7 linked regions of the Homo sapiens genome follow. The protein of the gene in region 1 interacts with the protein of each later gene in a pairwise test. Each region holds a gene or a part of one and is shown in the gene's direction. Other genes may lie near its edges. The genes, in order: MFF, MTNR1B, GKN1, MPZL1, PECR, TM6SF1 and SLC35B1.

Region 1 (3,500 bases):
TATGTATGTATTTTGTTAATAATGTAACTTTGCCCTTTCTTTTCCTACTGTTGTTAATTTTATAATTTACAATTTATCTTTAAGAATCTACATCTTACTAACTTTAGAATTTTGTATAATGAACATATTATTCAGTGTTGTTAACGTAGTGAGGAAAAAACAATTGATATAATACCTCTATTAAAATAATTATTAAACTCTTACTATCTTTACCTACTTTAGTGTTTTCTTTGTAACATGAAATTGTTGTGCGTCATAGTGCATGAAACTTTGCCTGTCTCCACTTTATTTTATTCCATGGCTTTAAGAATAAAAGTGCGAACGGGTATGAGAGCAGGAGCACTAGCCTTTGTTTTCTTAATTACTTCGAAGAGGCAATAAGATTGTGGTCAGCTATTAGCGCAAAAGTGAATTCTAAACAGTAAAATCAGATCTAGCTTTTTCTTTGTGTTATAAAAGCTGAATATGTAAAAGAAGCATAATTATTATTTAAGGTGGCACAGATCAGATTCTGCCCCAAGAAATAAAATTTCAAGGTTCCAGGCACCGATTTCTGCACCGGAGTACACGTAAGATTTTATCTGCTCTGCTTTTGACAAGTAGTTGTTTTGATTTTGAAGGATTATGTTAATACTAATCTATTCACCAGGTAATTGACGTATGCTATCCTAATTATCTTCCTGTTTGGCTTTTTAGTACCTCTGTTTCAGGATTTCTCAAACTGTCATTATATGCTTTATTAAGGAAAAAAAAAAACTAGACCATCTAAGGAAGTTGTATATGATTTTGCATGTGTTGGTGAAAGGAACCTGAAATATAATATGCACATAAGGACCAAGCATCCTTTTTTGTTTATTTTGCTTTGGTTGGTATAATAGTTCTCAACAGATTCAACGTCACCTGGTGCAGTGATCCCAATTTTTTTTTTTTTAATTTCAGCGCACTGTCTTTTCTTCTTCTATCTTGTTTCTGAAGGAGAATGGAGCATAAGTGTGGTTTGTCATTTATTTTATAATCCCATAGATGAAAACGATGCTTGGAAGCACTTTTTTGCTATTATTAAACCCACTCTTTCCATGTGACAAAATAAGGTATGAGAATGACTCACTCATGGAGCACAACGTTTTGGTATATAATACAGGTATTCAATAGCTAATACACTTCTTAAGCAACAGAAGAAACTGCACCGAAAGCCAACAGTTTTCCTCTTATTCTGGTTCTATTATTATGCTTCCAGGAACTATTCAGTTGCCATAGATAGTGGCAATATATTAAAATTTCCTCTGTATTTACAATTCCAAGAGAAATTAATATATTTGTGTTTTAGTGAAAATTTTTTCTCTTTATTGTTTTACCCTATTTTTTGGAAGAGTGATACCTCACCGAAGAGGTTAAATTCACAGGTTGGGAAACATTATTCCTATGAAAACTCAAAGAGGTACTTGATTTTGAACTTACTTTTAATAATGATATAGTTATGCCAAGTAAATTTTTATTTAAATTTTAATTCTGACAATTGGCTGGTGTTTTTTTGGTTGTTTTGTTTTTTTCTTTTGAGACGGAGTCTCACTGTGACTTCCAGGCTGGAGTGCAATGGCGTGATCTCAGTTCACTGCAACCTCCACCTCCCGGGTTCAAGCGATTCTCCTGCCCCAGTCTCCCAAGTAGTTGAGACTGCAGGCACATGCCACCATGCCCGGCTAACTTTTGTATTTTTAGTAGAGACAGGGTTTCATCATATTGGCCAGGCTGGTCTTGAACTCCTGACCTCAAGTGCTCTGCCCACCTTGGCCTCCCAAAGTGCTGGGATTATAGGCATGAGCCACTGTGCCCAGCCCTGGTGTTGTTTATGTAACTCTTATGTGATAAGATTTCATGTAAGCATGAGGTAGAGCTATTACTAATGAAGCATGGTAAACATCAGTGCTTTCTTCAAAATTTTCTAATCTTTTCTTTTAAAAAGGTAATGTTGAGACTTTGCTATTTTATAATATCACTGGAATCAGTTTATCAAATTGCATTTTTATTAAATTACTAATATATATATAATGCCATTTACTTAATCTTCTCAGTGCCTTTGCAGTATGTTTACTTTTTTATTTTCCACAATAGTTCACTTGTCAAAACTACAGAAACAGGAAGTCATTAAACCTTGGTTGGGTCCATGAGTGGACGGAGATGAAAGCGCTGTTTCCCTCCACAGTTGATAGCTGTGGAGTACATTTTAGCTCCTGTCAAACTGATTGCTAAAATGGAGCTTATTCTTTTTTGTTTTTACATTTATTTGTAAAAAATACCAACAAGACTGCTTAAAGTTTTAAAAAGGAAAGACAATTGCTAAATTATTTATTGCCTCTAATTACTAATGTAGTTTTGGCAGTCTTAATGGTGATTTATTTCATCTGTGGATGGAATTAAATGTTACCAAACAAGGACATTTAATCTATACAACACTGGCAAAAGTAGTCATCAATTAAAAAAAAAAAATACTCCCGATTTCGTTTTTTGTTTATGGAGGATTGCCATACACATGAATGAAAAGCTAATTTTTTTACTAATCTTTGAAATGTTAATTTCTTTTGAGAAACAACTAGAACCTCAAGTTATGTTTTTGATGCTGGTTTTTGAGGAAATAAATATCTTTACTAGTATTGATAAAAACTTAATTTCATCTTTTATCTTTCTACATAAGTATTTTTCATGTTAAATTATAACTGAGGATCATGTAAGGTTTTTTCTCATTGTATTCCAATTTCATGTGATCGTAAAATCTTAGAATTGAGAGAGATCTTATAGATTGTTTTAGAATCCAACCTTCTGCATTCCATCTTAGGAACTCTTTGCAGTTAGTCTGAAGTAAGTTTATGTTTGACTATTTTATAAGATGACCTCCTCATTTCCTATATATGGACAGAAAATACTTGTACTTTTACAGTTTAAATAAACAATTCATTATTGTTTGTTTCTGGCAAAAGGATTTCTCTTAGAGGAAGTAACCCTTCTTTTATTTTAATTTTTAATGGGCCAACATCCATTAAGTTTTTTTCATGGATTTGAGTTTAGTTCATTCATACTGTTGCCCCAAGATTATAATTCTAAATATTGATTATTGTAGCCTTTAATATGTTAGTATATAGCTGGTTTATTTATCAGTACAGAATGATACACAAAGTGTTCAATTTAAACCCCCAAATGCAAAGGCAAAGTACGGATTTGTCCTTTAAAACTTGCTTGAGTGAATTTAGGCAGTTAACGCTGGCTGCTCTATCAAGAAGAGTGTAAGATGGATTGTTTGTTTATGTTGATGTAGAACTGACCATTTTTTAATTCTCACAAGCAGTAAGAGCTTCAGGTTTTCCCAGTGCTGCCTAAAGAGAATTCTGAGTGTAAGACTAACATATAGTTTTGTTTCACAAATAGGATGTTTTTTTTATTTGTTTGTTTGTTTGTTTATTTGTTTTTACCCTTCTGGAATGCCTGGTATGGGTTTTGCCAATTAC
Region 2 (3,500 bases), on another chromosome or scaffold:
TATCTCCAGAAAGCTGGATTCTGCATTCGGATATGATATACCACAAAATTCAGAGAATACTGAAAGCTCCTACTGGCTCTTTCAATTTAAAATACTTACTGCTGGAGGAGTAGAGATAGAGAATTGGGAAGTAAAGCCCCAGTTCTTAGGGAGTTTGCCATCTAGAAGGAATGTCCTACTTTCTTCATCTTCATGTCCTTACTACTTCTCACATCTTATCTCACAGGGATCCCAGTCCAACCTTATGAGCCTCTTTCTTGATCTGTCAGTACAGCTAATAATATAAAACAGTAATAACAAATAATAGCTAATATTACTAGTGCTTGTTATATGCCAGATTCAAGTCTCTTTCCTTTAAGAGAGAAAGAAAAGGCAAAAAAAGCCCTCCACTGTCCCCTATCAAAGGGATATTCCTTCCTAAGCGCCACTCTCTATCTCCTTCTTTTGAAGGCAACACTGATAGAGCAATCTCCAGGGCAAAACTGGATCCCCAAGCTCTCAACAGAATTTGTTCTTGTTAATGTCACTACTGCCTTCCTAACTACCAAGTCCAATGAGCACTTTTCTGTCCTTTCTCACTTTTGTAGATGACCAAGAAACTCTCTACACCCTTTCTCTTAATTCCCTTGATATTTCTTTTCTTTGGTTTTCTCCTCTTCTTGTTCTTTCTCAATCCTTCTGTGTTATGGCTATGAGCAATTCACACAAACTGGGTGTCTGTTTCTTTATCTATAAAACAGAAATCATGCTGTCAACCTTAAGGAATTCTTGTGAAAAACAATGGAGTCCATTTATGTAAAACTATACTATCAACTTCACCATGTTATATCAATGGTTGTTTTGTTGCTATTAAGTGTAAAGTAATAAAATGTTACCTATCAGAATTTCAAAATGATCTCTTTTGATGGTTATTGAAGAATATTTTGTAAAGCATCTTAGTTATGTTTTTAAATGGATGCTTATGTTCTTAAATATATTTTCTTCTTTTAAGTGGTTGAAATACCCCCATATATATCTGTGTACACTATTGATTAGCCAGTTTTTGTTTTCTAATTAAATCAAAGTTAGATTTCAACTCAGCTCTTGTATGATTCATCCACACATCCTAAGATTTTCATAAATATGTGACTTTGGAAGAAAAAAATATCTGCTCTCAAGAGATTTGGGAATCTAATTACAAGCTTACAATAAATGCATTGTTTTAGTGTTTGTTTGAAAATCAAGTTGTGAATAAATTATATGGTCAATTATTTCAAATGCCCATCCCCAGAACATAATAAGAATATCTCACATTAATTTGGTGATTATTGTTATTTCTCATGACCTTTCCCATACAACATCTTATTTGAGGTAAACAGCCATTCTGGGAGTTAGGAGTTCTGTTGCAAAAGTCTTGGTAATTTTGTGTAGCTCCTTGGTGAATTGTCGTGCCTGACCAACCCCATATCCTGCCATTGTCCCCAGTCCCAAGTTGACTCACAAATTCCCCACTGTTCCCACCACCTTGTTCTGGCCTTTCTTCCAGCTCTCACCTAATTGAATGGCTACTGTTTTCTTTTGTTTCCCTAACAGTTCCATGGGCATCTCAATGGCAGGGGCCATGTCTTTCATCCATCACTGCGTCTTACTTGAATGTGGTAGGCACTCAATAAATATATTACACATTTAAACAGATGGAAGAGTGGAAGAAGACCTCAAGGCACAGAAAGTTTAACACTGTTAGAAAACATAGATCATTTGTTGACTTCCCCAACATATCCCTCTTGGCACCTTGTTTTTATTTGTTTAATGGTCTTCCCTAAGAGACCATAAACTTTATAAGGGGAGGTAGCCTGTCCATCTGGCATAGTCAAAGGCAGAACCTAGTATATACTCAGCAATATTTGTCACATAAATGACTTGATGATTCTCTCTTTCTATCTTGTCTTTTAGCTCAATGACCAAGGAGAATTTATGTCTAACCAAATTTTTCTTCTGAGCATGGAGGGTGAGCACAGAGGAGGGGGGCAAGGGTTACAGGGAGCTTTACCTTCCAGAATTCTCCTATCTGACGAATATTAGATAGCTCAGCACTGGCTGGCTCTTTCCTAGATTACCAGATCTCCATTAAGAAATACATTTTCCAGAAAGAAAGAGAGAGGAAGAGAAGAGGGAGGAGACTGTGATGGTTGTGTGTGTGAAAGGATGCGCTCTGCGTATGAATCCTGAAGGGGATTCCATGTTAGTAAACAAAGCCCTCTTGTCAAAGCCTCTCTCCACTAATACACCCTATCTGCTGGAGGCAGATGGAAACGAGTCACGCCAGGACCCATGACATAAATATTCATTATGCACACGGTGACTGCAGTGCTGTGTGCATACTGAGTGATTTCTCACCTGTCTGGGGAAGAAATGGATGGAGAACTGGATCTCCCCTTGACTATCATCCACATAGGACCTGGCTTCTTACAGATGGAAGACAAAACACAAATTTTATTCATCTAATTTGGAATTGTGCCAAGAAAGCCTGGAGACAGTGGGATGTCTGGGCAGATGAATCTATAGCAGGAAGTGGTTGATTTCAGCCTTTTAGGAACAGCCAGAGTAATAGGGGATAGTAATTGAATCACTTTCCACATGGAGTTGAATGTGTTCTTCTTACTATTTACAAGCTGTTTGCCAGCCTCTGGGGCATTATTAGGGGATAAGCCACATTAACACAGCAGAACTTGACTCTGCCTTCACAGGGAAACAGCTGGCAGAGCTGGCACCGGCTCCCAGCAGCTCTTGACTTTCTCTGCTCAGCTTGCAAGTGCCAAGAGCTTGTGTGTTGCTGGGCCAGGTGCCCAGCGGGTCCTATGGAGACTCATCTTCCTGTGCTGGAGAGAAGTGATTCTCTTCACAGAACCAACCCTATGAGTGTGCAGGGGGAAGTGATGGCAGAGCTCTGAAAGAAAAGAAAGGAGCTCATGTAGGAATAGTCACCAAGAAAGGAACTCGGGAACTCGCCCAAATTCATTCAACCATAAAGTGGCAGGACTCAGATTATCCCAGATTTCTCTGACTTCAGCACAACCCTCCAGATTTCAAAAGGACACATAAAATTCTCAGGAGACAAGGGTTCCTGATTCAGCTGAAGACAAGCAATGTGAGAGAGGGAATCCCTCATGTTCTTGGAACCAAGTGAGGTCTGTGTAGATGAGTCAGAGATGGAGATCCAGCAGTGGAGACAGCCAGCGGGCTGAGAATTAAATTAAAAGGCACAAAACCCCTCCACATCCCAAGCAGGTCCTTGTTGCACATTTTTTGCCTTGCTGTACCAACCAGAAAGGAAATGAGGTCATTTTTAACCCATGAAGTAAATAAATCTGTGAATAGTAGAGTAGGTAGGAATCCAGCAGTTCAGTTGAGTCATGATTCTCCTTTGCCATCCAACTTGCTGGACAATCTTGAGACAGGGAAACTCACTACCTCACAAGCGCTCTAATTGTCCAGACAATCTCCTTTCTATTCAGTTACAT
Region 3 (3,841 bases), about 160 Mb from region 1:
GAATATCAACGTCAATGATGACAACAACAATGCTGGAAGTGGGCAGCAGTCAGTGAGTGTCAACAATGAACACAATGTGGCCAATGTTGACAATAACAACGGATGGGACTCCTGGAATTCCATCTGGGATTATGGAAATGTAGGTAGTCAACGTGCAATTTTCACTTTATTGTTTAAAAATACGATTTCTTTTTAACAAAAAATGTGCATGTTAACCATAAAGAAATTAAAAATAAATTCTAATTACACATAGCATACAGTTATAAGTAAAGGTGACCATTTTGCTCATCCGATTTTGTTCCCTAGAGATAACTACTGTTAATAAGTGTTGCATGATCAGTTAAAATTCAAACCAACAAACACTATGTTCAAGGGATTGTGGGTATATACAACAAATATGAACATCCTTTTGCCTTGCCTGCAGATACCCTCAATAATGCTGAAAGACTTATACAACATTACTGCTTCCAAAGCTTAGACTATCTCACTTTGTTTTCAAAGGAGGTTTTACGACCTTCTAAAGAGATTGAAATTGACATTTCACCTAAAACTCGGGAAATGTAAATGACAATATTAATTGGTAAGAGAGGAAAGAAGAAAGAAAGAAGGAAGGAAAGAAAGAAAGAAGGAAGGAAGGAAAGAAAGAAAGAAAGAAAGAAAGAGAGAGAAAGAAAGAAAAAGAAAAAAGAGAGAAAGAGAGAAGGAAAGAAAGAGAGAAGGAAAGGAAAAGAGAAGCAAAGAAAGAGAGGAGCAAAGAAAGGAACACTTAGCACTAGTTAGGAGACCCAACTCTGGAATTATCAGCTATATATTTAACAAACGTTATACTTTTAAATAGCAAACTCTTTATTGTTTCAATTTTATCTGGTCAATTGGAAAAATAATTTTTGTCTTATCTGTCTCCTTGAAATGTGAGGATCAAAGGAGACTAAAACATGATAGCTTTTAAAGTCTATTTCAGTAAAACAGACTTATATAGAGGGGTTTTTATCATGCTGGAACCTGGAAATAAAGCAAACCAGTTAGATGCTCAGTCTCTGCCCTCACAGAATTGCAGTCTGTCCTCACAAATGTCAGCAATAGATATGATTGCCAAGCAGTGCCCCATCCAGTGCTCTTATCCCAGCTCATCACGATCTTGGAGTTCCCATTTCTCTCTGCAGGTGGAACTGACCTCTGATAAGAAAAGCTCCTCGGAGAACACATGCCTCACTATTTGCCATCTACTTTAACAGGGCTTTGCTGCAACCAGACTCTTTCAAAAGAAGACATGCATTGTGCACAAAATGAACAAGGAAGTCATGCCCTCCATTCAATCCCTTGATGCACTGGTCAAGGAAAAGAAGGTAAAAATAAAAGGCTTTTTATTTTTGGTGAGGGGAGAGGTTTTACATCCTTCAGTAAATAACGAGAAGATCACAGTCATTCCCTCTTGACTACAGTATGTTGTAGTGTGCAGCACAAAGGGGGAAGTTATTGGTGATTGCCTGAGGGAAGGCAACTTCTGCCACATCAAATGCTGTGGCTCACACCTACCTCTACAACCGCTGAGCAAAGCACTTGAAACCTTGACTGTTAGAGGAGCAAAGCTCTGGTCACACCAATAGGAGCCTCAGTACTTTGCCAAGGACATTTTTCTGCAAGAGTTAGTTAGGGTTATTAGATTTAGCAAATGAAAATAGAAGATATCCAGTTAGGTTTGAATTTTAGGTAAGCAGCAGGTCTTTTTAGTATAATATATCCTATGCAATATTTGGGATATACTAAAAAAAGATCCATTGTTTATCTGAAATTCAAATGTAACTGGGTATTGTATATTTTGTCTGGCCATACTAATCCAGGTGAGTGGAAAGAAGAGATCCATAATGTTTTAAAATATTTGCCTGAGTTCATATTCCTATAACTGATAAATGAGTACCTTTCATTGACAAGGTAGAGAAAATAAATAAACTGCATTCTCAGAAGATGATTATTACATAGTCTAATCCAAGGAATCTATGATGACCAAATGAGGTCCAAGTTGCAGAATAAATTAAGCCTCAGACTTCTGTGTTTATGAGAAGCTGAGGTTTCAAACCAGCTAAATCCCTTAGGACACTTAGAAATGCTAAGATATACAGAATAAGCTAGAAATGGCTCTTCTTCATCTTGATTATGGAAAAATTTAGCTGAGCAACACTCACTGTTGGCCTCGTATACCCCTCAAGTCAACAAACCACTGGGCTTGGCATTCATTCTCTCCCATTCTTCCTTTCTACCTCTCTTTTCCACACTCAGCTTCAGGGTAAGGGACCAGGAGGACCACCTCCCAAGGGCCTGATGTACTCAGTCAACCCAAACAAAGTCGATGACCTGAGCAAGTTCGGAAAAAACATTGCAAACATGTGTCGTGGGATTCCAACATACATGGCTGAGGAGATGCAAGGTGAGTAGCATCCCTACTGTGCACCCCAAGTTAGTGCTGGTGGGATTGTCAGACTATCCTCGCGCGTGTCCATAGTGGGCACCAGTGATGCAGGGATGGTCATCAAGGCCAACATTTGTGCAGTGCTTGCTCTGTGCCAGGTACTGTTCTATGTGCTTTAAGTGTGTTAACTCGGTTCTTCACAGCAATCTTATAGGTTCTATTTTAATCCTACTTTATGGATGAGGAAACTGAGGTACAGAGAGGTCACAAAATCCTTGCCTGGGTCAATTCCAAGCATTTTGGCTGTGGATTCTGTGCTCTTAAATATTATGGAACACTGCCTTTTAAGTGTGAATCAAGAGTAGACTCAAGTCATATTCAAAAGAATGCATGAATGGCTAAATGAAAGAAGAATGCTAATAGAATCTATTAACTTTCTATAGCTCAGACAATCACTTAATTTCTGGACATTCAAAGAACAGCTGCACACAAACAAAGTGTCTACCTAGGGACCTAACTTAATGGCAATTTTCCAGATCTCTGAATTGATTGATTTCATCACAACAAGTAGATAAACCTTGACATTAGCACATAGCTAGTTTGGAAACCCCTACTCCCCCAATCCCCTCCAAGAAAAGAGTCCTTAAATAGACATTAATATAGGCTTCTTCTTTTCTCTTTATTAGAGGCAAGCCTGTTTTTTTACTCAGGAACGTGCTACACGACCAGTGTACTATGGATTGTGGACATTTCCTTCTGTGGAGACACGGTGGAGAACTAAACAATTTTTTAAAGCCACTATGGATTTAGTCATCTGAATATGCTGTGCAGAAAAAATATGGGCTCCAGTGGTTTTTACCATGTCATTCTGAAATTTTTCTCTACTAGTTATGTTTGATTTCTTTAAGTTTCAATAAAATCATTTAGCATTGAATTCAGTGTATACTCACATTTCTTACAATTTCTTATGACTTGGAATGCACAGGATCAAAAATGCAATGTGGTGGTGGCAAGTTGTTGAAGTGCATTAGACTCAACTGCTAGCCTATATTCAAGACCTGTCTCCTGTAAAGAACCCCTTCAGGTGCTTCAGACACCACTAACCACAACCCTGGGAATGGTTCCAATACTCTCCAACTGCTCTGAAGGCTGCTCTATAGTTGTTGTGCACAGTAACGTTTCAGATCAGCAAGGACAGAAATTCACTCAGAGTCACATAAGCAAGAAAGGGTGGTTTATTGCAAGGATATAAGAATATCTCAAAAAATCTGAGGGCAAGAAAAGCAGCTGGTTATCAAAAAAACTACATCCAGGAACTCTGCTGACACCAAGACCCAAGTCTGCTTCTCTCCCTGAAGCCACGCGTTACCTTTTCTCTCTTCTTCTCTAAATTTTACTTCCCTCTTTTTCGCATATTGCGGATGGATTTTTTTG
Region 4 (2,219 bases), on another chromosome or scaffold:
AATGTAGCCCATTACCACATGTAGCCTTGGAGACCCAGGCAAGGACAAGTACACGTGTACTCACAGAGGGAGAGAAAGATGTGTACAAAGGATATGTATAAATATTCTATTTAGTCATCCTGATATGAGGAGCCAGTGTTGCATGATGAAAAGATGGTATGATTCTACATATGTACCCATTGTCTTGCTGTTTTTGTACTTTCTTTTCAGGTCATTTACAATTGGGAGATTTCAGAAACATTCCTTTCACCATCATTTAGAAATGGTTTGCCTTAATGGAGACAATAGCAGATCCTGTAGTATTTCCAGTAGACATGGCCTTTTAATCTAAGGGCTTAAGACTGATTAGTCTTAGCATTTACTGTAGTTGGAGGATGGAGATGCTATGATGGAAGCATACCCAGGGTGGCCTTTAGCACAGTATCAGTACCATTTATTTGTCTGCCGCTTTTAAAAAATACCCATTGGCTATGCCACTTGAAAACAATTTGAGAAGTTTTTTTGAAGTTTTTCTCACTAAAATATGGGGCAATTGTTAGCCTTACATGTTGTGTAGACTTACTTTAAGTTTGCACCCTTGAAATGTGTCATATCAATTTCTGGATTCATAATAGCAAGATTAGCAAAGGATAAATGCCGAAGGTCACTTCATTCTGGACACAGTTGGATCAATACTGATTAAGTAGAAAATCCAAGCTTTGCTTGAGAACTTTTGTAACGTGGAGAGTAAAAAGTATCGGTTTTATTCTTTGCTGATGTCCTTTCTGCTTGAAATAACAGTCACCATACAGCTAAAGGAGAGGAGTTTCTTTCCTTCTAAGTAGGCAGAAATGGTATCATTATGTTGCCGCTCTCCAATCTCCCAGAGCTCGCTCTCTAGAGAATCACCTTCTTTCGCTTTTTTTTTTTTTTTTGAGGTAGAGTCTCACTATGTTGCCCAGACTAGCCTTGAACTCTTGGGCTCAAGTGATTCTCCCTCCTCAGCCTCCCGAGTAGCTGGAACGAACTATAGTTGCACCACTGCAGCTGGCAAGAATCACCTTCTTTATAAAGCGTCAGTCATGCTTCCAGCAAGAGGCAGCATCAGTCATGGCTTTATAACAGCTTCATGGTGCCTCAAAGACTGTTGAGGTTAATGAGAGCCTAGATTAGACAGTTTGGCTGTCCTTCCCTAAAACTTGTTTTCTCCTATTCACTACTCCCCACCGCACTTAAAATCTATGAGTTTTTACTTTTTACTGGGAATGGAAAGTGTGGTGAAGATCATTCAACACTTATGTTGTCATTTCTCCCATTTTCTGAATTTTTTTTTAAATTTCCCCCCTTTTAAAATTGTTCGAAAGCCCACAGTTATGGAAAGAATTACTGTCTAGATGGTCTGCAGAACGTGTTTGGGGTGAGTGGGAGTGAGGGGCAATGTTACTTTTTCTCCCTGTAGTTTGGAGTCCATTATGAGCTGCTGCTTTTTCTTCTCATCTTGTCATCTTCTGGGGATGTTTGAAGGCTGAGTTCCAACAGAATTCACAAAGGGAATAAAACAGGATTGAGATTTTGAGGTGTGCACAAGGTGGTAAGATAAAGGGCATATGAGCTTCAAAACTAATGCTGTTGCATACATGAAGCCTTTTGTTTTTTGAGGAGCTATTTTTGTTATTCTTGTAACGCTCCACCTTACATGCCACATCTGTGTGAGTCAACAGGGATCAGGTTTGGTCACCACACATGTCTGAAGCTGGGCAGCGTCTGCTCTGTGTTCTGTGTGGAATGGAGAAAAAAACGCCTGCCCTGCTGCCTTCCATGTTCATAGGCCCAGCCCAAGAGAGTGACACACAGTGCTGGCCCTGAGACATTTCCACAAAGTGGTCAACTCTGCCTTGCATCCTAAAACTTTTTGGGCATCTATTTTGAAAACTATAGGAGCCTTTGGAAGGCCTCTTATGTTTGGAGGGGAAGGGTGTTGAGATTGTCACCATCCTTCAAGCTGAGACTCCTGGTGAGCCTTTGCCACCATGAAAACCACATAGCTGACCAGGGCTGTGCTTGAGGTACAGAGGACACACATTGTAGACAGGCCTGTGTCATGTTTCCTTACAGTCGTTTTTTACAGAGAAAAGGGGCATTGTTTTTTCACTGCTTTCTCAACAGTTCCTGTGAATAAATGAAACATTTCGGAGCTCCCTGAGAGCAAGAGCCTTCACTTCTTCTTGCGGTGCCGGGAC
Region 5 (3,500 bases), about 11 Mb from region 1:
CTTTGCATGCATTAAAAATTTGTATTTGTTGACTTTTTTTTTTTTTTTCCTGAGACGAAGTTACACTCTTCTTGCCCAGGCTGGAGTGCGGTGGCACGATCTCGGCTCACCACAACCTCTACCTCCTGGGTTTAAGCGATTCTCCTGCCTCAGCCTTCAGAGTAGCTGGGATTACAGGCATGCGCCACCACACCTGGCTAGTTTTGTAGAGACAGGGTTTCTTCATGCTGGTCAGGCTGGTCTTGAACTCCTGACCTCAGGTGATCCACCTGCCTCAACCTCCCAAAGTGCTGGGATTATAGGCGTGAACTACCACGCCTGGCCTATTTATTGACTTTTTTACGAAAACAGAATTTACTCTGTGTTATTTTCTGAAACTTGTTATGGGTATACTATAATATCATCAAATCCCATTATGATTTGGATTTTATTTATATTTTTGTTCTTGCAGTAATTCTGCAATGAACATTATGAATATAATCATGTACTCTTGGGTGAGGGGATATGTTTCTAGAAACAGAGTTCCTGAACCAAAATAGACTTGCATTGTATTTTGGAAGATACTGTTAAATCAAACATTTGATGAGCCATGTTAACCAAGGTCTTTGGATTTGTATTCTGAAAACTAAGAGTAATATTTAATGAATTTTAATCAAGGCAATTATATTACATTTTTATTTTTGATAGAATACTTTGGGAGGCTAGGCACAGTGGCTCACACCTGTAATCCCAACACTTTGGAAGCCTAAGGCAGGTGGATCACTTGAGGTAGGAGTTCAAGATCAGCCTGGCCAACATGGCGAAACCCCGTCTATACTAAAAAATACAAAAATTAGCCAAGCATGGTGGCATATGCCTGTAGTCCCAGTTACCTGGGAGGCTGAAGCAGGACAATTGCTTGAACCCGGGACACGGAGGTTGCAGTGAGCAGAGATTGCGCCACTGCACTCCAGCCTGGGTGACAGTGAGACGCCTTCTCAAAAAAAAAAAAAAAAAAAATATATATATATATATATGTATGTATATATATATACTTTATGTGGTTTACATTATCTATATTTGCTGTATTAGAAATTAAAACCAAAATTTAAGAAATATTATTAATTCATTTTAAAATAGTAATAAAGGAGTACATGTTAACATAAATAACATTTACTTTAAAATAGCTACATTTAAAAAAAGAAACAAAAACTTTTTTTTTTTTTTTTGGTTCAAGCGATTCTCCTGCCTCAGCCTCCTGAGTAGCTGGGATTAACAGTCATGCACCAGCATGCCCAGCTAATTTTTGTATTTTTAGTAGAGACAGTGTTTCACTAAGCTGGCCATGCTGGTTCGAATTCCTGGCCTCAGGTGATCCACCTGCCTCGGCCTCCCAAAATGCTGGGATTACAGGCGTGAGCCACCGCGTCTGGCCGGTTTTTTGTGTTTTTGAGGGAGTGTGGTTTACAGATTGTTAGAGGTTGTGACTACTTGGGTGGGATGGTTGTTGTCTGGATGGCATTTCAGAAAGGAGCTCATTGGAGCAAGTCTCTTTTTGATGCGCTGACTTTAACAAACATGTTCATTGGCTGAGTTGTCACTACTGGATCAAACAGGGTTAAAACCAGCTCTGTTGCTTGTTACCATGTCTCAGTACAATCTGCCTTTTCACAGTAATGTGGGACCTTTTAAATAGTGAATTCTATACCAGCCCTGTCCAGTAGAAATATACTAATAGTCACATTTGTAATTTTAAACTTACCAGGAGCCACATAAAGTAAAAAGAGGTGAAATTAATTTTAATAATATATTTGACTTAGCCTAATACATCCAAAACATCGTCATTTCAACATGTAATCAACATGGAAAATTGAGATGATTTTCTTCATCCCTCGGAGCATCCAGGATTAATGAGATATTTTACATTATTTTTCCCATACTCAGTCTTCAAAATCCAGTGTGTGTTCTATACTTACAGCACGTCTCAATTTGGACCAGTCATACTGAAAGTGTTTGAGTAGGCGACTATGTCTAATGGCCTCGTTTTAGATAGTGCAGCACTGTACTAGCTGCTGGGAATACAAGGATGGAGAGAAGGCTTGGCTGCTCTCCAAGCTCTTAGAGTCTCAAGGAGGTATAGCCTTGTGAATATAGGACCAGGACTGGGATGAGGCAAGCAAGGCATGGACACAAAATTTAAGGACCCACTCCCTCTGAGGGAAGATTTTGCACTTGTGCAAACCTGAGAGTGAATACCTCCTTAAATCTTGCACCCTCGACACCTTATTTGCCTCACCCTAGTCCTGGCCCTGCCTGGGGGCCTTTTAAACTGCAGATTCTGGGACCCCAACCCCAGAGCTTACAATTGCAATGATCCTGGAAGGATCTAGGAATCTGAAGTCTCAGTAAGCATCCCTAGTGATTCTAATGCAGGTGTTTTGGATCATCACCCTTTGAGAAACTCTGCTTCTTCCCACAGCCTCAAGTGAGAGCTCCTTTACAAGTCAGTGAAATAACTTCCTTCTGTTTGGGTTGGGAGTAGATGTTGCTGAACTCATCAGTTCCCTATTTGAATTTTTAAGGAGTACAGTGGGAGTCTGAAGTGCCTTTGGTTTATTTTTATTTTTATTTTTTTGAAATGGAGTCTCACTCTGCCACCCAAGCTGGAATGTAGTGGTGCAGTCTTGGCTCACTGCAACCTCTTAGGCCCACGCAATGCTCCCACCTCAGCCTCCTAAGGAGCTGGGACCACAGGTGCCCGCCACTGTGCCTGGCTAAGTTTTTGAAGTTCCTCTTGTAGAGAGCTCCTTTGAATGTGTGTTGCTGGGCTTTTGGCCTGACAGGACCGCAGACTGAACAAACCAGAATGCTAGTTTATTGCTAAACAGACACATTGACTATTTCAGGGACCAAAACATAAAAGGCACGAGGTAGTGATGGAAAATGGGGTTGTGGAGGACAATGAAAGGCATGGAAGGAAGTGAATTGTTTGAAATGGGAAAGAGCAGAGCTGAAGCACTGAGTTCACTTATGGCTTCTTGACGTCATGTAGCTTGCTTGACATCGTCTAAGGCTCCCTCATACCTTGCCACCTTTACCCTAGTCACCTACCTGATTTCGGTGATGCTCAGGTAGAAAGGGAAATTGTAGGAAAAGGAAGTTGTCTATGTACTGTGAGGTTGTGGTGCACATGCACACACTGTTGGATTCATGTTACAATCATGGGCTTTGAGATGCCTTTACTGGGGAATGTGAGGCGGTTAGAAATGGGGAGTATTTGCTTTTACCTATGCACATGTGTGTTTCTGTTTCCAGGTCTCCTCTGTGGTCTGCTTCCTACTGTCTCCTGCAGCTTCCTTCATCACTGGACAGTCGGTGGATGTGGATGGGGGCCGGAGTCTCTATACTCACTCGTATGAGGTACCAGGTGAGCAGCTGAGGAATGAGCAGTCACCAGCTTTATGCTGTGTCATGTTCAGGGGTTTAAAATTTATTATAAGTAGTTACTTAAGAGATGAGGG
Region 6 (3,952 bases), on another chromosome or scaffold:
AAAAAAAAAAATAAAAATAATAAATAAATAAATAAATAAATAAATAAAATAAACCCCTCAAATGGCAACAGCAAAAACACATAAATGGTCTCTTAAATTCCCTGGAAGTTGTAAAGACAGTAAGTACATGCCGGTACCTCCCTCAGTTGCTTGAGCTGTTCTCCTGGAACTCACTGCCCTTCAGATAGCCACAACACTTGACACACAATATTTTCCATACCCGTAGGCATCTATCATTCAGAGGAAGAGGCTTATCTTCCAGTCTTTGTACCCTGCAGGGCCCAATGCAGGCTGGCTGGTGGGCACCTGGCCTCCAGGAATGCTTCCTGGAATAGCAATGAATGGCGCTCTAGTCTCTTAGAGTCTCAGCATTTATGTCCATTTCAATTAAAGAAAAAAAAAAAAAAAGAATCGCAGGAGGTGGTGTAGTGAGCAGCACAGGATAACGCGCTTCGTAGGTATGAACTCAGTTAACCCCACAGTCACACTATGAAGTGTGTTATCCCCATTTCCCAGATAAGGGAAAAGACAGAGAGGTTAAGTAATTTGACCAAAGTCAACAGCTGGTGACTGGAGAGCCAGGTTTAAAAACCGGATGCCGGCTCCGTGCAGCAGCCCGCCGATGGCTACTGGAGCGGAGAGGTTCCGAGGTTTCAGGGGCATTTTGTCCTTTCCCACTTCTGGGCCGTGGGCTCCCCCATAGACGATCCCGCGGGCCCTTCCTCCTCTGACACCCTCGGATCTGGTTCCACCTTTCCCGGACCGCAGCTCAGCCCCGCGCCTCTCCAGCTCTTCGATGACCGGTTCCCGGCCGTGCCCCGGGCCCTCCCTCGGAGCGCGCGCCGCCAGGGGCACCTGTCCCTGCGCGGGGGTGTCGCCGCCCCTCGGCGCCGCCGGGCGCTTGCCGCTGAGCCGTGGCGCCCCTGGCAGGAGCACTGCAAGGACGCCTCCCGGGACTGCACCGCGGCCCTGCGCACTTGGGGCGACGGGGCCAGGCGCGGGGGACGGCTGCGGGCTGGGAGGGCGCGCGGAGGAGACACCGCTGAGGGGACGCCGCTGAGGGCGCCACGCGGGGGGCGCGGCTGAGGCGCCTCGAAGGGCAAGCGCCAAGGGGGCGCGGGCGCCGCCGGAAGCTGGGGCGGGGCGCCCAGCGGGATGCGGTGAAGGGCGAGCGGCGCGGCGGCTGCGATGAGTGCCTCTGCGGCCACCGGGGTCTTCGTGCTGTCCCTCTCGGCCATCCCGGTCACCTATGTCTTCAACCACCTGGCGGCCCAGCATGAGTGAGTGAGCCGGCGCGGCGGGGGTCGCGCCGAGGGGCGGCGGGAGTTGGCTCGCCGCGACGGGAGCCTCGCAACTTTTCCGAGGGGGCTGGGACCGTCCGCCGCGGGACAGAGGTTCGTGGCCGCAGGGGCTCCCCGCGCCTGGCCAGACTAGGGGGGCGCCCCAGGGGTCGCACGGGCCGGGTCTTGGAGCCGGGCCCTGAGGTGCCCAGGCTGGCGCATTTCGGGATGTTGGTGCCAGCACCGCGCCAGGTGCCCGGGGTCACAGGCGTCAATACGGCCATGCCCCTGCCCTGGAGGGGCCCAGGGGCCGGTGGGGAGCGGAACAAACACGGACACTACGAACCTGGCCGTGTCAGCTCGTTTGTGCCTTGTTCTTTTTGCATCTCACGGGAACGTTTCCATGTATGGACTTTCGCATACTTATCATTTCTTATTAATTTTAGAAACTGTTGTGAATGACTAGCAGAAATAGCCCGGAACCAACAGGCAGAGACGTGGGTTCTAGGCCTGGCTTTGGCACTGACGGTGTCTGGCCTGACGGTGTTTGGCACTGACGGTGTGGTCTGGCCTCGGTTTTCCGGTCAAGTGGACTTTGTGTGCGTCCTATTGTAAGGTTCCACCGAGACCTCTTTGTGAAGGGGCGTTGTGAATGGAGAAGTGCTTCCCAGTGCCTGCGCTGGGGTAGGATGGGGACAGGCAGCAGAGGCAGAACACTTCAATGTGAAGGAAATGGGTGGGGCTGATGGAGGGGGACAGGGCTTGGGTTCGAAGCCCTGCCTCCCACTCCACTGCAGGGATCACGGACTAACCTGCAGCCGGCAGCTGAAGGCCTGAGGGTCGCCGGGTGTTGGGACAGGCGCCAGCCTCTGTTCCTGCTGATGTTGGTTGCTGTCTGGAGGGAGGAGGAAGTAACCTGCTATGTCTCTCAGCTGTTGGTGCTAAGGAAATTGCATCAGTCTGTAGGCTGCAAACCCCCTTCAGCTGGTCAGGCCGTGGAGTGTCTGTACATAGGGTGGTAACTTCCTCCTCTCCAGCTGCCTGGCCGCCTGATACAGGCAGCACCCACACTGAGTGCTCACCAGGCACCAGCAGTGTCTACCCTTGGTCTGGCCCAGTCTCTGGAGGCATCCCCTGGAGGCAGCTGCTCTGGGCCACCGAATATTACATGCCTGTCAATATAGTGCATGGGGGACCCTGTGCTCCAAAAAATGGCATTACGGGTAGTTCAGTGAAGATATACTGAGTGCCTACTGTGTGTTTGGCACTGTTCCAAGTGTTGGTGACATAGCTATGAACAAGCCAGAAGAGGCTGTGGAGGCAGGTAATGAGATAGACATCAACAAACATTAATACATCGATAGTGACATGCTATGAAGATAATAAAATAGGGTGACTGGGGAGGGGGCTGGTGGCCAGGGAAGGCTTCTAGGAGGAGGTAACACTTGAGCTATGGGAAGATCTGGGAATGGAGCCTGTCGGGCAGGAAAATGGAGCAGTGCAGGGGAAGGAATTGGATGGGCGTAGTAGGTATTTTGGAAGGTGAACAGATGGGGCTTACTGAAGAGGGTTGCATGGCAGCAGAGGATTTGAGGATGAGCCCTAGGTTTTGGCCTCAGCCACTGGGAAGATGGTGATGGCATTTACTGAATACAGACTGAACTATGTATTGCTGTGCATGATGGAGCGCACTGGCAAGCACTACAGCATTTTGAATAATTAGTGTCAGCCATTCTTCCTGTCCTCTTGCAGGTTAAAACCCCCGTGGCCTTTGATTCCTCTCTTCTTTCTCCACTCCCTTCCTCCTACTGTCTGCTTCCCCATAAGTCCTGGGGCTCTAGTGTCTGTTCCCTCCTTTCAGTTCTCCCTGGCACTGGCCCTTTCTGACCTGGACTGTGGCAAAGGCTCCGGTGCAAGTCTCGCTGCCCAGCCCCGCTGCGTGTTTCTCGGCCTCGGCCCCCCAGTCCCAGCCCACGCACTAGTGCTCCTGCCGCACCAGCCTGCCTTTGCTCCTTGACCATTCCTCCTCCTCTCCAGCCTCTAGCCCGGACTCCTGCTGCTCCCTGACAGGGATGCTGCCTTCCTCCTATCGCAGACTGTTGAAGCCGCACCTGGACTTTATGGCCACTTCTACCTTCTGCAGACCCTCCCTCTCTCTCCTTTGAGCTCCCTCAGTCCCTTGTTTGCACCTTTCTCCCGAGAGTTACTTTCCTGTGGTAAGAACTTACCTGCCCCGGCTATAGCTCACCCCTCTGTACTGTCCTGCCCAGGCCAGCGCCGTGTGCATCGTAGGCACTCAGGTATGTTTGACTTTGTTGAATCGAGTTTCCTTCCCACCAAACCTTTTATGCAACTCTGAAAACCAGAAAAAGAAAATTAGATTGAGAGGTCAGGAAAGGATTGAGCGTGTTCTGTCTCCCTCTCTCACTGAGAGAGACACACTGCTCACACTCATCCTTGCATGTCCCCTCTCAGTAGGTGTCTGTTCATAGAAGGGCATCAGCAGCCCTTCCCACCCCCCAAGACTAGCAACTTTCTCATCCTGGGGTTAGTCGCAGCCCTTACCTGTCCCTGAGTCCCTGCAGGACCTGTTTCTTCCTGTGGTGAGCAGGTCCTGCACTTGGCTGTTGTAGGAGGGTCTCTGGGGACAGTGCCAAGAGTCAGAGACAATC
Region 7 (2,261 bases), on another chromosome or scaffold:
GTGGTACGATCTCAGCTCACCAATCGGGTGAGCCTCCTCCTCCTCCTGGGTTCAAGCAATTCTCCTGCCTCAGCATCCGGAGTAGCTAGGATTACAGGCATGCACCACCATGCCCGGATGATTTTGTATTTTTAGTAGAGATGGGGTTTCTCCGTGTTGGTCAGGCTGGTCTCGAACTCCCAACCTCAGGTGATTCCCCCCGCCTCAGCCTCCCAGAGTGCTGGGATTACAGGCATGAGCCACCGCGCTCAGCCCAGAGAAAACTTTTTTAAAAGAGAAAAGAGGCTGAGTGTGGTGGCTCACGCCTGTAATTCTAACACTTTGGGAGGCTGAGGCAGGAGTATCGCTTGAGTTTAGGAGTTCGAGACCAGCCTGGGCAACATGATGAGACCCTTGTCTCTGCAAAAAAATACAAAAATTAGCTGAGCATGGTGGCAGACGCCTGTGGTCCCAGCTACTCGGGGCTGAGGTGGGAGGATCGTTTGAGCCCAGGAGGTGGAGGCTGAGGTGAGCTGTGATCACACCACTGCACTCCCACCTGGGTGACAGAGTGAAAATCTGTATCCAAAGAAAATAAAAGGAGAAAAGGAAGCTTTATTTCTAATCCAGCCTTCCTAGGGTCTCCCTCTGTTGCTCAGGCTGGAGTGTAGTGGCATGATCATAGTCCACTGCAACCTTGATCTCCTGGACTCAAGTGATCCACCCACCACAGCCTCCCGAGTAGTTGCGATTATAGGCATGTACCACAATACCTGACCAATTTTTTTTTTTTTTTTTGTAGCGATGGGGTCTTGCTGTGTTGCCTAGGCTGGCCTTAAACTCCTGGGCTCAAATGATCCTCCTGCCTCAGTCTCCCAAAATGCTGGGATTGCAGGTGTGAGTCACCACATTCAGCCATAGCCTAGAAGTTTTGACTCTTAAATTTCTTTTAGTCTTGCTGTATTATATATGTATCTATATCTATCTGTATCTCTATATAGATATATTTATATAGATACAGATATCTGTAATAACTAGTATCCTGGTGCCATTCTCTTGTCTCTGAGGAAGTTACATAAAACCAGTGTTCTGACATGTATTTTATTTAAAGCCCCCATTTTGGAGATACAAGGCCGACTACCCCACCCCACCACAATCATTGGTAAGTTTCATTTCCCCCCATAAGGCTAAGCCCATTTTCTTCCTTTTCATAGGTCTTGGTCTTGATGCCAAGTTTGGGAAAGGAGCTAAGAAGACATCCCACTAGGAAGAGAGAGACTACCTCCACATCAAGAATATTTAAGTTATTATCTCAAACAGTGACATCTCTTGGGAAAATGGACTTAATAGGAATATGGGACTGAGTTCCAGTCTTTTTTAATAAAATAAAATCAAGCAAAATCACATATTCTAAAAAATGCACTTGGATTTTAACAAGACAGAGTGGTGGTTTTTGTTCTTCATGCCCTGGAGCAGTCTATGGTAAATAAAAGAGGGAGGGAAGAGGCAGAGCTGGATGTTCATTACCCAGGCTGCTCCTCTCACGGGTGTGGTTAGCATGGTTGAGTGGGCGATTCCTCCAAGAACCTGAGGATTATAGGGAGGAACTCTGTGAGATCGCAGAATTGTGCTAATGGCTTCTGTTCCGATGGGTGAGGCTTGTCCCGTTAGAGCTGGTCCCATTAGAGGACGGGTGGCTGTCCATTAGAGCCAGAGAATGTAAAAGTCACTTCCTCTCCTAAAGCTCCTGTGGGCAAATATTTCATTAAAAAAACAAAGTTGTGTTCTGTCTTTTTCTTAGGCCTGGTGCAGTGGCTCACACCTGTAATCCCAGCACTCTGGGAGGCTAAGGCAGCAGGATCACTTGAGTTCAGGAGTTTGAGACCAGCCTAGACAACATAGTTAGACCTTGTCTCCACTAAAAATCAAAAACAGAAAAGAAATATTCATTGAGGCTGGGGTAAAACGAACCCAGAGTTTCAGAATCTACTGTTTTGCCATTTCCCCACTGCCTCCCCTTCAGCCACAGCTCTATCAAGACCAGAGTGGAGACCCAGTGCATACATCATGATCAGCTTTGGAAGGTCTGTGATGTACTTTTCCTGATATTCCCCCTCCATCTGTCTGTCTGTTCTCAGTCTACCTGGTCCCCTCCAGGGAGGCTGGGTTAATCCCTCCTATTCCCCTGCCTCCTCCAGCTGCTGAAGCATTGCAGTCCTCTGCCATCCTTTGCTGTGCCAAGGTGTCACCATGCCAGCTTCTGCCTGTTGAAAGGGATGCTG

The links.
Region 2: the proteins of MFF (region 1) and MTNR1B interact in a two-hybrid assay, tested with the Homo sapiens proteins (one large-scale study listed by BioGRID and IntAct).
Region 3: the proteins of MFF (region 1) and GKN1 interact in binary tests that used the Homo sapiens proteins (3 or more experiments, as listed by UniProt).
Region 4: the proteins of MFF (region 1) and MPZL1 interact in binary tests that used the Homo sapiens proteins (3 or more experiments, as listed by UniProt).
Region 5: the proteins of MFF (region 1) and PECR come close enough for resonance energy transfer, tested with the Homo sapiens proteins (one large-scale study listed by BioGRID).
Region 6: the proteins of MFF (region 1) and TM6SF1 interact in a two-hybrid assay, tested with the Homo sapiens proteins (one large-scale study listed by BioGRID).
Region 7: the proteins of MFF (region 1) and SLC35B1 interact in binary tests that used the Homo sapiens proteins (3 or more experiments, as listed by UniProt).

The regions. Positions count from the first base shown.
Region 1 is NC_000002.12:227,342,251-227,345,750, forward strand, and holds part of MFF (mitochondrial fission factor), read left to right. Parts: intron 1-494; coding exon of another isoform or gene 495-569; intron 570-3,500. UniProt on the Homo sapiens protein: Plays a role in mitochondrial and peroxisomal fission. Promotes the recruitment and association of the fission mediator dynamin-related protein 1 (DNM1L) to the mitochondrial surface.
Region 2 is NC_000011.10:92,976,151-92,979,650, forward strand, and holds part of MTNR1B (melatonin receptor type 1B), read left to right. Parts: intron 1-1,008; exon of another isoform or gene 1,009-1,540; coding exon of another isoform or gene 1,541-1,637; intron 1,638-3,500.
Region 3 is NC_000002.12:68,977,636-68,981,476, forward strand, and holds the end of GKN1 (gastrokine-1 precursor), read left to right. Parts: intron 1-1; coding exon 2-139; intron 140-1,235; coding exon 1,236-1,346; intron 1,347-2,277; coding exon 2,278-2,425; intron 2,426-3,093; coding exon 3,094-3,188; 3' UTR 3,189-3,341; downstream 3,342-3,841. UniProt on the Homo sapiens protein: Has mitogenic activity and may be involved in maintaining the integrity of the gastric mucosal epithelium.
Region 4 is NC_000001.11:167,787,982-167,790,200, forward strand, and holds part of MPZL1 (myelin protein zero-like protein 1 isoform a precursor), read left to right. Parts: 3' UTR 1-2,219. UniProt on the Homo sapiens protein: Cell surface receptor, which is involved in signal transduction processes. Recruits PTPN11/SHP-2 to the cell membrane and is a putative substrate of PTPN11/SHP-2.
Region 5 is NC_000002.12:216,043,810-216,047,309, reverse strand, and holds part of PECR (peroxisomal trans-2-enoyl-CoA reductase), read left to right. Parts: intron 1-3,294; coding exon 3,295-3,406; intron 3,407-3,500. UniProt on the Homo sapiens protein: Participates in chain elongation of fatty acids. Catalyzes the reduction of trans-2-enoyl-CoAs of varying chain lengths from 6:1 to 16:1, having maximum activity with 10:1 CoA. Has no 2,4-dienoyl-CoA reductase activity.
Region 6 is NC_000015.10:83,106,493-83,110,444, forward strand, and holds the start of TM6SF1 (transmembrane 6 superfamily member 1), read left to right. Parts: upstream 1-1,152; 5' UTR 1,153-1,188; coding exon 1,189-1,280; exon of another isoform or gene 1,281-1,394; intron 1,395-3,952. UniProt on the Homo sapiens protein: May function as sterol isomerase.
Region 7 is NC_000017.11:49,700,443-49,702,703, reverse strand, and holds the end of SLC35B1 (solute carrier family 35 member B1), read left to right. Parts: intron 1-1,193; coding exon 1,194-1,246; 3' UTR 1,247-1,761; downstream 1,762-2,261.